Regions from separate parts of the Homo sapiens genome. Here region 1 is reported to be linked to region 2. The links are microRNA targets in miRTarBase. Many come from high-throughput screens and were not tested one by one. Region 2 holds a microRNA gene; the other region holds the end of a gene's coding sequence. Distances are between the middles of the regions.

The links. The annotated mature microRNA hsa-miR-675-5p reads UGGUGCGGAGAGGGCCCACAGUG and lies in region 2 at 2,242-2,264, opposite strand. An mRNA with a match to its seed (bases 2 to 7 or 8) in the 3' UTR can be bound and repressed. Matches are read on the target gene's strand: a 7mer-m8 pairs with bases 2 to 8, a 7mer-A1 pairs with bases 2 to 7 and ends in A, and an 8mer does both.
Region 1: miRTarBase lists MICAL2 as a target of hsa-miR-675-5p. The part of its 3' UTR that is shown has no 7-base or 8-base seed match.

What each region holds. Positions count from the first base shown.
Region 1 is chr11:12,261,181-12,268,180 of GRCh38, reverse strand. MICAL2 (microtubule associated monooxygenase, calponin and LIM domain containing 2) reads right to left here. Exons shown (of 28, transcript NM_001282663.2): 27 at 5,644-5,701; 28 at 4,396-4,621. The coding sequence ends at 5,661. Among named protein-coding and RNA genes, the nearest start is that of MIR6124, 100 kb to the right of the region's middle.
Region 2 is chr11:1,994,559-2,001,793 of GRCh38, forward strand. It overlaps MIR675 (microRNA 675), which reads right to left and starts at 2,273; the gene lies at 2,201-2,273. It overlaps H19 (H19 imprinted maternally expressed transcript), which reads right to left and starts at 3,284. Exons shown (of 5, transcript NR_002196.3): 1 at 1,960-3,284; 2 at 1,729-1,863; 3 at 1,521-1,633; 4 at 1,318-1,440; 5 at 618-1,236. It also overlaps a transcript of MRPL23 not described here. RefSeq lists enhancers at 2,796-3,643, 3,644-4,492, 4,493-5,339, 6,189-7,036, 7,037-7,235.

The DNA.
Region 1 (7,000 bases), 10 Mb from region 2:
AGACTTCTCTTCCTCCAGGTCTCCCTCCTGAACCATGCTGGATGCCAGCCAGACCTTCCCCAGCCCGAGATGGCTGCATGTTCTGCAGTCTGAGGTCCAGGCCAGAGGGCATATATCCTAAAAATATTTTTTGAGGGCCCACTATGTGCTAAGTGCAATTCTGTCGGGGTTATACAAGCATTGAAAGGCAACCAAGACCCCTGCCCTCATGGAGTTTGCATTCAGTGAGCTGGAGAGCTGCTGGAGTTTTGAGCAGCAGTGAGACATAAATTCTAAAAGGATCATCCAGGCCAGGCACAGTGGCTCACACCTGTAATCCCAGCACTTTGGGAAGCTGAGGCGGGAGGATCACTTGAGGTCAGCAGTTCGAAAACAGCCTGGCAAAACCCTGTCTCTACTAAAAATACAAAAGTTAGCTGGGTGTGGTGGCGGGTGCCTGTAGTCTCAGCTACTCGGGTGGCTGAGGCATAAGAATCACTTGAATCCAGGAGGTGAAGTTTGCAGCGAGCTGACATCACTCCAGCCTAGGTGACAGAGTAAGACACTGTCTCAAAACAAACAAACAAATAAATAAAAGGATAATCCGGCTGTTTTGTTGAGGAGGTTGAGGGGTGAAGGGAGAAGCAGGAGGCCTCAGAGGGGTGGCTGCAATAACTTGGATGACAGTGGCGGAGGGTGGTTAGTGCGGAGGTGGTGAGGAATGGACAGCTTCTGGATATTCCTCAAATTTGCTAATGGATTTCGTGTGAGGTCAAGAGAAAGAAGAGTCAAGAATGACTCCAGGGCCTTTGGGCTGAGCAACAAGAAAAGGGGAATTGCAGTCTCCAGAAATGGGGAAGGCTAAGGGCAGAGCCTGTTTTGGGGGAAAATCAGCAGTTGGAGTGGACATTTGGGCTGGACATGCCCAGTAGACATCAGGTGTGGAGCAAGCGGGCAGCTGGGCACAAAGTGAGAGCCTATGCCCCCTCCTTGCTGAGACTCGGGCACTCACTAAGGCAAAACCAAAGTCCACCGGCAGGTGGTGGGAGGGAAGGGGAGCTCCAGAGCTGAGGCCTGGGTGTCCGAAGGGAGGTGGCTGTTGCCTTTAAGAAGGCTGGGGAATCAGAAACCTGGAGGAAAGCAGATGGTGCCACCAGTGTGAATCGAGACCGCTGTCTAGTTCCCAACCTGAAGGTGTCCTGTCAGGCGTTCTGAGCCCCAGTTAATCGAGAATGCCCGACAAGTTTTCCTCTGGGCGCTCTATGCTGTGCAAGATCAGGAAAGTGCTATCTAGAACATGGCAAAGAGATCTTGCTGTCCTGAGAGTCAGACACCTTGAAAAACCCTACACTAGAGGCATCCTTAGCCCCAGTTCACAGAAGGGACCTGTCTAATGCCACTGAGTCAGTACCAACTGCTGGGAGCAAAGCCTGGTCTTTGGTGGAGCCCAGGCCCTCAGCATGCACCGAGGTTCCTCTTAGAGCAGGCACCTGACTCCTAGCCTGGGCTGTGGGACTCAGTCCCTTCACAGTGGAAAATGTGGCTCTAGACTTGCTTCTGCCTCCCTAGTATCAGGAGCTTCTTTAACATCAGTACTGACCGCAAGGTTGCCACAAGGAGGTGAAGAGCTAACGAAGTTCTGCACATAAAATTCTTGGCCCACTACCTGGCACAGAGAAAATGTTCCCTATATAACAGCTGGCTGGGGGGCAGTAAAAGATGCAGTAACTTCTTTTACTTACTTAAGCCTTTTTTTTTCTTAAGTTGTAAAAATGAATGCATTTATAGAAATAAAGGGGAACAGCCCACCCACTCTGCTTGACCGACTTACACATTCAAGTTGCACAGATTTATTTCTTCTGCTGGATTATTTCCTCAGGATAAATTCCCTGCAGTAGAATTATTAGGCCAAGAGGTCAGAGCCCTTTTCTGGATCTTAATCAGGGTTGCCATAATGCTTCCCAGGAAAAGATTCTCCCAGTTTACTTTTTACTCAATACTTGGGATGAAGTTCATATTTTTTTCTTACAGTTTTACTTTTTTCTTTACTAATTCAGTAGATGCACTATAATTTTTATTATTTTCTTTTTGAGACAGAGTCTCACTCTGTAATCCAAGCTGGAGTGCAGTGGCATGATCTCAGCTCACTGCAACCTCTGCCTCCTGGGTTCAAGTGATTCTCGTGCCTCAGCCTCCCAAGTAGCTGGAATTAAAGGCATGTGCCACCGTGCCCAGCTAATTTTTTTTTAGTAGAGACAGGGTTTTGTCGTGTTGGTCAGGCTGGTCACGAACTCCTGACCTCAAGTGATCTGCCCGCCTCAGCCTCCCAAAGTGCTGGGATTACAGGTGTGAGCTACCGCACCTGGCCCATGTGCACCATAATTAATTTACTTCCTTTAAAAACCAAGTAGGAATACTTTTGTAAATGCTTGCTTTTTCTTTTTAGTGTTTACTTTTAAAATTTGCTTAAGGGTAAATTGCCTGTTCATAGCCTTTGCCTATTTATCATTGACTCTTTAATCAACAAATATTAACTGATCATCTACACTATGAGAGGTGCCCAGGAACATCTGTTTTAAATGAACCTTGAAAATACCATGCAATGAACTTCTTTGTTATTACATTTAGTTCATATTTTTCCCTAGTCTAATGGTCTATTTAATATTTTATTACTCTACATTAAGTTTTAAAAATGTATATAATCAGATTTGTGTCATGTTTTCCCTGTGTGGTGTTCTTCCTATTAGAGGATTTATGCTTAGAAGGTTATCACCCCATATCTAATCAATACTTAATTCCATTTAATATTTAATTATATGGTTTTCCTTTTAAAATTCTAAGTCTTTAATCCAATATCTCTGAATTAAACACTAGTCTACCAAAACTATGTATGTAGAATGCAATATTCAAAAAAAGCAAACCAAAACAAAAACAAAATGTTCACATAAGTATGGGACAGCTGACTTTCACAAAGTTGATTAAACTTCCCTACAAGGATGCCTCAGAGACTTGACATGCTAATGAATCTTGCTAGTCTCCAGGACGGGGGAGGACTGGCAAGATCAGTACAAAATATTCCTCAAATGTTGTGATCATGGACTCCTTTGTTGGTGAAGCACCACTTGGGGTGTCACGCTTTGACAATAAAGTGACGATTTTTGTCTGCTTTACTCCCTGCTGTATTCCTAGTACATAGTAGATGCTCAGGAAATATCACAGAGTTGAGCAAACAAATGAGCACATGCACAGTTAAATATAACAGATCTCATCTAGTACAGCAATACTGAGCCACATCTCTAAGGTGCAGGGAGGTGTGGGGACTTCGCATGGTTCCCTGCTGTACCTAGGGCTTAGAATAAGGCCTAGGACAAACATTTGCTGAATAAATGAATGCATAAAGGAATGAGTCACTTGCACAGCCCAGCACCTGACTTACAGTCCCTAACATCCCTCCTTAAATGGAAGTGGGAATATATCACCCAGGTAAGAGTACAGAACCCTTGGTCATGACCTGAGGCAGCTCTGAAGGTAGATCCAGGCATCAGAGACCAGAGCCTCAGGAACACCCATTTGGAGGTGCCAGGGACCTCATGAGGTTCACAGGTGACTTTTCATACCACTGTCAGAAGCCCAGCTACGCCCAGCTACGCCCAGCCAGGAAATGGCAGGCATCCCACCCAGGGGAGGCTGAGGACCAGATGACTTTGGCACTGCCCAGGATAGCCAAGTGAGGCTCCAAATCTTTCCCTTAAACACAGCCTGGAGTTGCCTGGGGCCTGCCATGAATACTATACTTCGGGTGGTGCTAGGGCAGGGCCTCACACCATAGATACTGAATACCCTGAGCCTTTGGGACAGGAGAGGTCTCTTAGGATGGCAGTGGCTCTCCATCTGATGAGCACACTGCCAACTTCATTGCCATCCTAATATTGATGCCCAGTCCTTCCTACTTACCTTCCACTTGCCACTCAGCTGTGCACCAGCGTGAAGTGTTCCAGACCAACCTTTGCTGAATAGGAACCTAAATTAGTGTAAGGTTCATGGGGAAAGCTCTCCTGTAGAGCCACGCTTGGGTGTGCGGGGGAAACGGGTAAAGGTAGCCATCAATACAGTCTGCTTCTAATCGCTGAGGGGACACTGACCCTCACCCACTATGCCCAGCATCTAGAACAGCAAAGTACAATGAGTGTTCAAGAAAGAGATCCCAAAGCCTAGCCCAGGAGCATTGGTGACAGTTTCCAAATATTACCCAGGGGTAATATTTCCTTTCAGAGTGCCCAGCGCAGCCCCAGAGAGTCCTGTGTTACCTCAAGTGCAAGTCCCGCCAGCAGTTTAGGGAAAATGAACCCCCTACACCAATCCCTGTGTGTGAGGTTTTAGAAGCTTCCACGGCAAAGAAGAGAGGAAACAATGAGCTTTATAAAGAACAATATTTATTTCCATTTACAGCATCAAATACCATAAATAAAGCTAAACATTGTTTGTTTTGCTGTGTGCAAAATACAGGGTTCCGTGTGGCACTGTAAATGATTACCAAAGGTCACAGACATGCGTTGTGATGAGATGGGGAGGCTAGCTAAAGAGGAGGCTGAGAGGGGAGGAGGGCACTCTTTGGTTGACATTCTATAAAGGGAGGGAGACTCTGTAAGAGAAGATAAGACAAGAGCAACGACTTTGTACTGGCCAGGATCTGCACAAATACAGTGAGCGTGCAGCATGCAGGGCCAGGCAGGCAGGCCCGGGGGTCAGGGTGGTCTGGGCCACATGCAGGACAGACGCCCACCGCAGCCTGAGACCGCGAGTGTTGCCTAGGACAGCTCCACGGTGCTTGGTGTGTTGTTTCTCGTTAAGAGTGTGTTGGTGATTATCCTGCTGCCCCAGGTACAAGAGTCAGCAGAAATGTGTGCTTTAAGCAGAGTCACAGGGGCCTGGGGCTGAACTGAGTCATTTCTCAAAGATATCCCTGCCTGGGATGATGATGGCTCTAATTGAAGCTCTGGCATCATCTGGGGCTTTATGAGCCAAGGGAGATAAGAAGAGCCACAGCAAAACCCTTGGGTCTACAGTGCAGGCTGCAACCAAGGCAGCATTTGCTAGAATATTTGTGATTATGTGTTCAACCTACAGAGCATGTGTCAAGCTTGGGATGAGGCCTGAGAGTAATTAAGTTTTTTAAATCCCTCCAAATAATCACCTATGGTTTTGATAAATGACATTAACAATCTTTACATTAGAGCCAATTTAAGAAGGCGCTGGTATGTATGAGCTTTTTGAGGCTGCTCAAAAAGTGTTCTTTTCAAAGGTGACAGAGGCCCCCTCATGGTATTGTTTCATGATCAAGGTCGACCCTCCCAAGAAAGTAGGTAGCTTCGCAGACGCAACTGGAGAAGCATGCACGCAGGCAGACCCAAGGGAGAGAGGAGAGGCGGGGCATGCACTTGGGGTAGACCAGGCTGCCAGCTCCATGGGAAATGAACACAGGCATGGGTCTCAAGCTGAACACCCCCCGCCATGCTGTTAGCCAACCATGCCACCAAATGAGTCCATCAGTATGCAAGACACTCACAGTTAGTGCAACCAGTACTGCTGGCGGAGAGGACGGGGTGCGGAAAGCGGGTTGGGGGTTAGTACCACTCTTTGAAAATTGGCAAGAAAACCAGTCACCTTAGAGCAGAAGTGTGTCAGCCAAGAAGTGGGTGTAGCACTGGAAGGCTGAAATGAACTGATGGCCATGGCGTAAGATTGGAAAGAGAGAGAAAGATAGAAAAGAGAGCTTAGTGTGGGGAAAAAAGGAAATGATTAACATCACGAGAAGGCACCGGAGTTGAAAATAAGGCCACGATTGAAAGAGGGAAACTTCCTCTGAAAGAGTCGCTGTTTGCTTAGGAGAGATGAACCTTTCTGGTTGTGACCAGCTACTTGTTTACGAGAGTGGATGCACACAGTTTGCATCTTGCTCCCTGATATCCTCTCTGCCCCCATTTTACTCTAGCGTCTCCCATTCATTCTTGAATATGTTGCGGAGGCCTAGAGGCATTCATCCTCGGGGGTCCACCCCTGGGTGTCGGTGCTGCCCACCAGAAAGGTTCAACATCTCAGAGCGTACAAACATCTCAGATTTCTGACAGGCACGCCCTGTCTCGCCACAGTAATTCAAACCAGTCTCCTTATGGCTGTACACGACAGTCAGAGATTCCGACTCGGGCTTCATGGAACACTCCACAAAGCATCTCAGCCTATCCTGAGCTGAAGATAATCACAATAACATGGCCGTTCACATCATGACCTCAAAAATTTACTTTCTATACTCAAACAAAAGGAATCAAGGGTTCCTCCCACCATGCTGAACATTAAAATCCCAGCAAAAATTGGAGAAAACACAATGCAAGTCATCGGACTGAGAACAGTGCCAACAAGGACAGAGGCGCCAGTTCCCACAGAGTTGGCCACGGCCATGCCTCTGTTTTTCCCAAGGATTTCAGGGAAGTGTTTGTAGAAATGCACCTCCTTCTTCCCGCCCCATAGAAACTGTCATCTCAAAGCTCTCAAAGGTTCTGACTCCTCACCCACACCCAGGCACACCTCTTAGTTAATCCAGAGGCATCTCTAGTGATAACTCCACAGAGCTATCTTGGGCCCAGCAACTCCAGATACACTGCGCACCGTAGATGGCCTTTCTCTGGCGGCCCCTTGATTGTTCAGCCAGACCCTGCAGCTGTGTATGTCTAGGCAGCGTGGAGTAGGGAGAGCTGAGGACTCTTCTAGATACCCAGAGTAAGAACACAGGTGGACCTGCATGCTCATTTTTACCCTTACTCATGCATATGTCCTTTGGATCAGTCCATAAATAGCTTCCACTCCCAGCCTTCCCTGCCAGTCAAGATATGGTAGAGCTTCCCCTGGAGGTCAGACCCATTCCTTTCCCAGGGCAGTGTGAAATTGGTTTCTGTTTTGACCACATATGTGTGGCAGCGGAGCAGCTAAGCAGTCAGGATGTCCACAGGCAATGCTCACTGGGCAG
Region 2 (7,235 bases):
CACTGAGAAGCCCACCGGCTCCCCCACAACCCCCTGGCTCCTTGTGCGGGGCCGTCCCTCCGGCGTGGCCCCGGCTCCCACCCACAGCAAAAGGGGAGCAGGAACGGGACTGGCGCGGGGTTCGTGCCCCTGTCGGGGTGGGGTCGCCCAGAGCACCTTGTGGGCCTCCCAGAGCGGCCATGGCCAGCTCTACCCCAGTCACCTAGCCCGGGCTTCAGGGGTCTGGGGCCAGCACCAAGGCGTCATTCTGATGGGACTTTGGGGCGACAGGAGGCACTCGCTCGGGGATGGTTTGGTGGTCCCCGACCCCTGCCTCAGAGCGCAGGCCCCCTCCGCAAGCCCAGCCCCCGCCCAGTCTGTGAAGCCCCTGGTCCCACAGCCCCTCCACTGCCATCACTGCATGCTGACCGCCTGCCCTGCACCCCTGAGGTCCACACACCCTGTGCTCACCCCACCCCTGGTGTGTGCTGCGCTGCACCCATCCCAGAATCCCCCACCCTGGAACCCCCATCCCCCTTTTCATGTACTCCTCCCCATGCCCCCCAGCCCCCCTCTGCCCAAGGCTGGCCTCCCCCACATCATGCCCACAGCCCGGATTCCAGAGTCCTCGAGACAAATTGCTGTAACAGTGTTTATTGATGATGAGTCCAGGGCTCCTGCTGAAGCCCTGGTGGGGAGGGGCACAGAGCGAGATGGGGCGTAATGGAATGCTTGAAGGCTGCTCCGTGATGTCGGTCGGAGCTTCCAGACTAGGCGAGGGCAGGGTGAGGCCTCGGGCACACAGCCGGCGCCCAGTCACCCGGCCCAGATGGAGGGCGGCCGGGCCCTGCACAGGCACTTGCCAAGGTGGCTCACACTCACGCACACTCGTACTGAGACTCAAGGCCGTCTCCACAACTCCAACCAGTGCAAATGACTTAGTGCAAATTAAATTCAGAAGGGACGGGGGAAACAGAGTCGTGGAGGCTTTGAATCTCTCAGAAAAAAGGAAAGACAGGAAAGCTCAGAAACAAAGAGACAGAAGGATGAAAAAGAAGAAGAGGGAGGTGGTGGGGACGGCGTCATCCCGCTGGAGGAGCTCAGCTCTGGGATGATGTGGTGGCTGGTGGTCAACCGTCCGCCGCAGGGGGTGGCCATGAAGATGGAGTCGCCGGTGCGGGGTGGGTGCTGCGGGCGCTGCTGTTCCGATGGTGTCTTTGATGTTGGGCTGATGAGGTCTGGTTCCTCTAGCTTCACCTAGAGATAGCGACACGTGGGTGGGATGGGGGCAGGGTGCTCGGGGGCCTGGAGGCTTCCGGAAGGAGCGCTGGTGCTCACCTTCCAGAGCCGATTCCTGAGTCAGGTAGTGCAGTGGTTGTAAAGTGCAGCATATTCATTTCCAAGCTAGAGGGTTTTGTGTCCGGATTCAAAGGCCCAGGCTTGAGCTGGGTAGCACCATTTCTGTGGATGGGGAAGGAGTGAGGTCCCACTCAGCTCCTCTCGCGTGCCCCCCACCCCAAGTGTGGCAGGAAGCCCCTCACCTTTCATGTTGTGGGTTCTGGGAGCCCAGAGGGCAGCCATAGTGTGCCGACTCCGTGGAGGAAGTAAAGAAACAGACCCGCTTCTTGCCGCAGCCCCACCAGCCTAAGGTGTTCTGTAGAAGACAGAGGTCGGGGCAGTGAGATGGTGGCCCGGCGGGGCGGTCTGGGCAGGGCCGCGTCCTGACGCAGGGAGGGCAGACACGCTCACCAGGAAGGCCGGACGCGCCTCCTCTGTCCTCGCCGTCACACCGGACCATGTCATGTCCTGCTTGTCACGTCCACCGGACCTGGCGTCTTGGCCTTCGGCAGCTGGTGGGCACGTCCACCCCAGCTGGAGACCTGGCTGTGGGGAGAACGAGAGAGTCGTGTGGGGAGAACGTGTTGGTTGTGTGGGGAGGGGCGGGTGGGGGCTGAGGGTGGCAGAGGGGGAAAAACTCACCCTCGTCTCCAGCCCGAACGCTGAGGCACCGATCCCGGCTCCGTCGCCGCCCGCGAGGCCCGCCTTGGCCACGGGCTCTGGAGGCCAGTGCCTCCCGCTCGCCGCCCGCTGCGCTCCTCACCCCTGCCTGCACCATCCTCCCTCCTGAGAGCTCATTCACTCCGCCCCGCCCGCCTCGCCTAGTCTGGTCTCGCCCCATGCCCTTGACTCCCCTGGATGCTGTACTGTCTGCCAAGCCAGCCCCAGGGGCTGAGCGGTGAGGGCATACAGCGTCACCAAGTCCACTGTGGGCCCTCTCCGCACCAGACCCTGGGCCGCAGTGCCTCGTGGGACCGGCGCCCGCAGGCCGAGCCCCTGCAGCCTCCTTGCTGCGCAATGTCCCGGGGCCCCCCTCCCGTGGCCGCTTCGCCCTCCTGGTGACGTCCTGCTGCAACTCCCCGAGCACTGCCTGTCTTCCCGCTCTCCAGCCCTCGAGGCTCCGGCATAGGCCTGAGAAAGCCGTGCCGGAGCTGCCCCTGTGCCTGCTACTAAATGAATTGCGGTGGGTGAGGTGGCAGCTGGGGACCCCTCTGTCCTGTGTCCCCTGCCATGTCCCTGTCTGACCCAGGCCTGGGGTACCACCCCACGTGCTGGACCCTACGCTGGCCACCCCTGTGCTCCCTCCCTGCCCTCTTGCTCTTTCTGCCTGGAACGGGCCCATAACCCCCCAGCCTTGCGCAGTCTCGGCTCCCCCCGAGAAGATGTCACCTTTGCTAACTCTCCTGCCCCCATCCTGCCCCTCTGCTGGGAGGGTGTCTGCTTCTCCCCGCCAGCCCTCGATCCCCTAAACCTCCTTCTTTCAGAAGGCTGGGGAAGCGAGGCCTGGGGAGGGAAGGGACTCACCTGCCCGGCAGATGGGGTCCTCACCTGCCCGCTGCTGCCAGCTACACCTCCGTTGCCCAGGCCCTGGGATCAAACCCTGCCCACCAGCTCCCCTCGTCCAACCAGCTGCCACGTCCTGTAACCAAAAGTGACCGGGATGAATGCCTGGCTCCCCCTTCTTTCCAGCCCTAGCTCAGGCCCATCGTCCCCAGCTGATGTCGCCCTGTCTGCACGATGCCTGGGCGCCTACTCCACACTCCTCACTGGCCTCAGGCCCCACCAGCCCTGCCTCGAGCTAGCCCCTCCACCCGTCATCACTCCTGCCAGACTCCAGATGTCCAAGGTGCTCCTTGGCTCCCACAAGCTCTCCTCCAGCACCCCATCTTCCCCTGGTTGCCCCTCGGTTCCCCACTTCCCCAGTTTCCCCCGTTACCCCCCACCCATCCCACCCCCTCCCTCACCCTGCTCCTCGGTCCTAGCCCGGGCTTTTTCTAACTGGGGTGGCCCCGCCCAGAATTCCCGCCCCTGCCCTGCCGGCCAATCAGAGCAGGGCCCTCCCGAGGGCCCCCGCAGGGCCCACCTCCGCCCTGGACAGTTCCAGCACACGTCTCTCTCACCCAGCACCCATCCTGGAATTCTCCAAAGACGGCCTCCCCGCACCCCTCCTTTGGCATCCGGAGACAGGGCTGAGCATTGCCCCATCACCTCCCTCAGGGTCCAGGACTTCTCCCTCCCAGACCACTGTCTCCCCTCAGGGGACACCATGCCTGCTGCTCCCTGCCTGCCAGCGCCCTGCACATACTTTGCACATGGCTGGGGGCCAGCTGCGGGTCCCTGGGGACTCGGATGGCACAGAGGGCCCCTTCCTGCCACCATCACGGCTCAGACCTCACGTTCCTGGAGAGTAGGGGTGGGGTGCTGAGGGGCAGAGGGAAGTGCCGCAAACCCCCTGGTGGGCGCGGTGCCAGCCCCCCAGGCCGATTCCCATCCAGTTGACCGAGCTTGTGCTGGTCACCGCGGTTTCCGCAGGACAGAGTCCCCACAGCCGCTGGGCACCCCGGTCCCATTCGCGGCCACTTTCCTGTCTGAAGACCGCATGTTGCCGGGCTGTGCTTACGGCTCGCGGGCGCACTCTACTGACAAGCGGTGGGCGGCCTCACAGACTCTCCCAGGCCCGCGTGGGGCACCACGGTTGGGAGTGGAGTGGAGACTGGCGAGTTTCGACTCCCCCAGCCACCCCGCTGTGGGTCCGTCGGTCACCACCTTGGCCTTTGGTGAGGGTTGTTGGGGCCCTGCAGTCCCTGGGGTTCACCTCAAGTCTCGAGTGTCAAAGCCGTGAAGGGGAGCACCAGGGCCAAGGGACCCAGAGTTCACGGGTCCAATCACCCAGCAGGCCCTCTGGGATGTGGAAGGGCTGGCCGCGCCTTCGGCAAACCCTCTGTTCCCATGGCCCCACCGGAAAGGGCTGAGTGCTTGCCTGCTGAGCACTGACCGCCGGGCTTTGTCGTGCGTGAACCCCACGACATGGGGGAATTTCCATGGCATGAAAATTCTCAGGCTTTTCCATGAGTGGACCCCCAAGTTAGGAGACCAAGGCAGACCCCCACATTTTGCTAAAAGTGGAGTCCAGCCTTGGGTCACCTTCAGACTGTGATGTGAGTCACCACTGCCGCCTCTCGGCCATTTCCGTCTCCACAGCCACAACCGATTCTGTGCCATCGCTGGGAGATGGGCTCACTGGGGACAGCACCCAAGACCCAAGGGGAGACTCAGGAAATACTCCGGAAATACAAATGCTCCAGGCAAGGCGGCTCCCCAGGCCCCTCGCTCCTGCTCCAGGCATTGTGGGAGGGGCTAGCACAGGATCCGGTCGTGCTGCCAGCAATGCGCAGGCACGGGGAACACCTGTGGGCAAATTCACCTCTCCACGTGCCAACTACCGCCGGCCGGACGTGATGATCCCTGAGCGTGGAGCACACCCGAGCCATCGAACATCCTAACCCCATCAGGATCCCCACCCCGTACCGAGTCCACAAGCCGCAGGGTGTCTGCTGCACCCACGATAATGGATTATCTCCAGCAACACAAGGATCCTGGACCAGAGAATAAAGCAGCAGTGGCGCTCCCAGCTCTTTAGCATCTTAAGCTCCTGAATTAGCACCTCAAACCTGCATTGAATGAGAATGTTAATGTCTGGCCACTTAGGGCTGAGGAGATCAGAGTGTTCACTGGGGAGGCAATTGTCAGTTCAGTAAAAGGCTGGGGATTTGGGGGCTGTCCTTAGACGGAGTCGGAGCTGTGCTCTGGGATAGATGTGGAAAATGTAAGATTTTGGTGGAACACACTGTGATCATCACATAAGTAGGCGTGACTTGAGTCCCAGGCCATGACACTGAAGCCCTCGGAGTGTGACCCGGGGCCACGGGGCTGTGGATAATGCCCGACCTGAAGATCTGGTGCGGCTCCCATGAGTGTCCTATTCCCAGATGACCCCCGTGAACCCTGCGACGCGTGGCTTGGGTGACCCGGGACGTTTCCACGGGCGAACCCCAGTTGGGGCGGGCTCGGGCTGTGATGTGTGAGCCTGCACTGCCGCCGCGCGGCCACTTCCGATTCCACAACTACAACCAATTCCGTGCCATCCAGGCGGTGAGACCGAAGGAGAAGCCTCCAGAAATACCCATGTGCTATGCAAGAGCCCCCGGGCTCTGTGCCTGCCAGAGACCCTGCGAGAAGGGTTTCACACTAGGGCCGAGATCCCCATCATCCATGGAACTGGGACACCTCATTGTTCCCCTAGTATCTCCTCCCATCTCCCCAACCTTCAACAGTGCACCCTGGGGTGAATCAGACACGTAGCCCGATATGGCTCCCATGAGTGTCCTATACCTCACGACCCCTGTGAACCCTGTGGCGCCCGGCTTGGATGACCTGGGATGTTTCCACGGGCGAACCCCAGCTGGGGCGGGCTCAGGCTGTGATGTGTGAGCCTGCACTGCCGCCGCGCAGCCACCTCCGATTCCACAACTACAACCAATTCTGTGCCATCCGGGCGGTGAGACTGAAGGGGAAGCCTCCAGAAATACACATGTGCTATGCAAGAGCCCCCGGGCTCTGTGCCTGCCAGAGACCCTGCAAGAAGGATCTCACCCTGAGGCCAAGATCCCCATCATCCAAAGAATGGGGACACTTCATTGTCCCCCAAGTATCTCCTCTCATCTCCCCAACCCTCAATAGTGCACCCTGGGGTGAATCAGACACATAGCCCGATGTGGCTCCCATGAATGTCCTATCCCTGATGACCCCCGTGAACCCTGCGGCGCCTGGCTTGCGGGACCCGGGACGTTTCCGCGGGCGAACCCCAGCTGGGGCGGGCTCGGGCTGTGATGTGTGAGCCTGCACTGCCGCCACGCGGCCACTTCCGATTCCACAGCTACAACCAATTCTGCACCATCCGGGTGGTGAGACTGAAGGGGAAGCCTCCAGAAATATTCATGTGCTATGCAAGAGCCCCTGGGCTCTTGAGCCTGCCAGAGACCCTGTGGGAGGGGTCTCACGCTGAGGCCGAGATCCCCATCATCCAAAGAATGGGGACACTTCACTGTCCCCCAAGTATCTCCTCTCATCTCCCCAACCTTCAACAGTGCACCCTGGGGTGAATCAGGCACGTAGCCCGATGTGGCTCGTACAAGGGTCCTACCCCCGATGACCCTCGCGAACCAATGCGGTGCCTGGCCTGTTGACCCGGGATGTTTCTGCAGGCAAACCACAGGTAGCCGGGCTCGGGCTATGACGCCTGAGCCTGCCCTGCTACCACGTGGCCACCTGTGTTTCCATACCTTCAACTGATTCCGTGGCATCTGGGCAGCGAGACTCCAGGAACACTGTGCGCTCTGCTTGGCAGGCTCCCAGGATCCCTGTTCCTGCCAAAGGCCTTGTGGGAAACGATTCCCTCTGGAGCATGCGCTTGAGTCCTTGGGTCCCAGTCATGATCACCTCAGAACACAGGGATCCCTCATTTTGGAAGTCTCTGCTCTCCTGTCCCAGCTTCAGTGCCTGACCCAGGTGATACGGGGCCATGGTCCTCTGATGAGGTCCTTGAGTCTGATTCCAGCAGCACAGAGCCTCCAGGGCAGAGCCGAGGTGAGGCTCTGGAAAATGCACTGTCAGGCTCACACAAGCACATGTTGGCCAGATGTACAGATTCCACAGCACAAGGCAGGCAATTGGGCACAGACCGCACAGTGCACAAACACCATTGATCCCCATCCTTTATCGATTCCACAAACCGCGGGATGTCTGCTGCACCCACATTAGCAGATTATCTCAGCCAACACAAGGATCCTAGACCCCAGAATAAAGCAGCAGTGGCACTCCCAGCTCTTTAGCATCTCAAGCTCCTAAATTAGCATCTC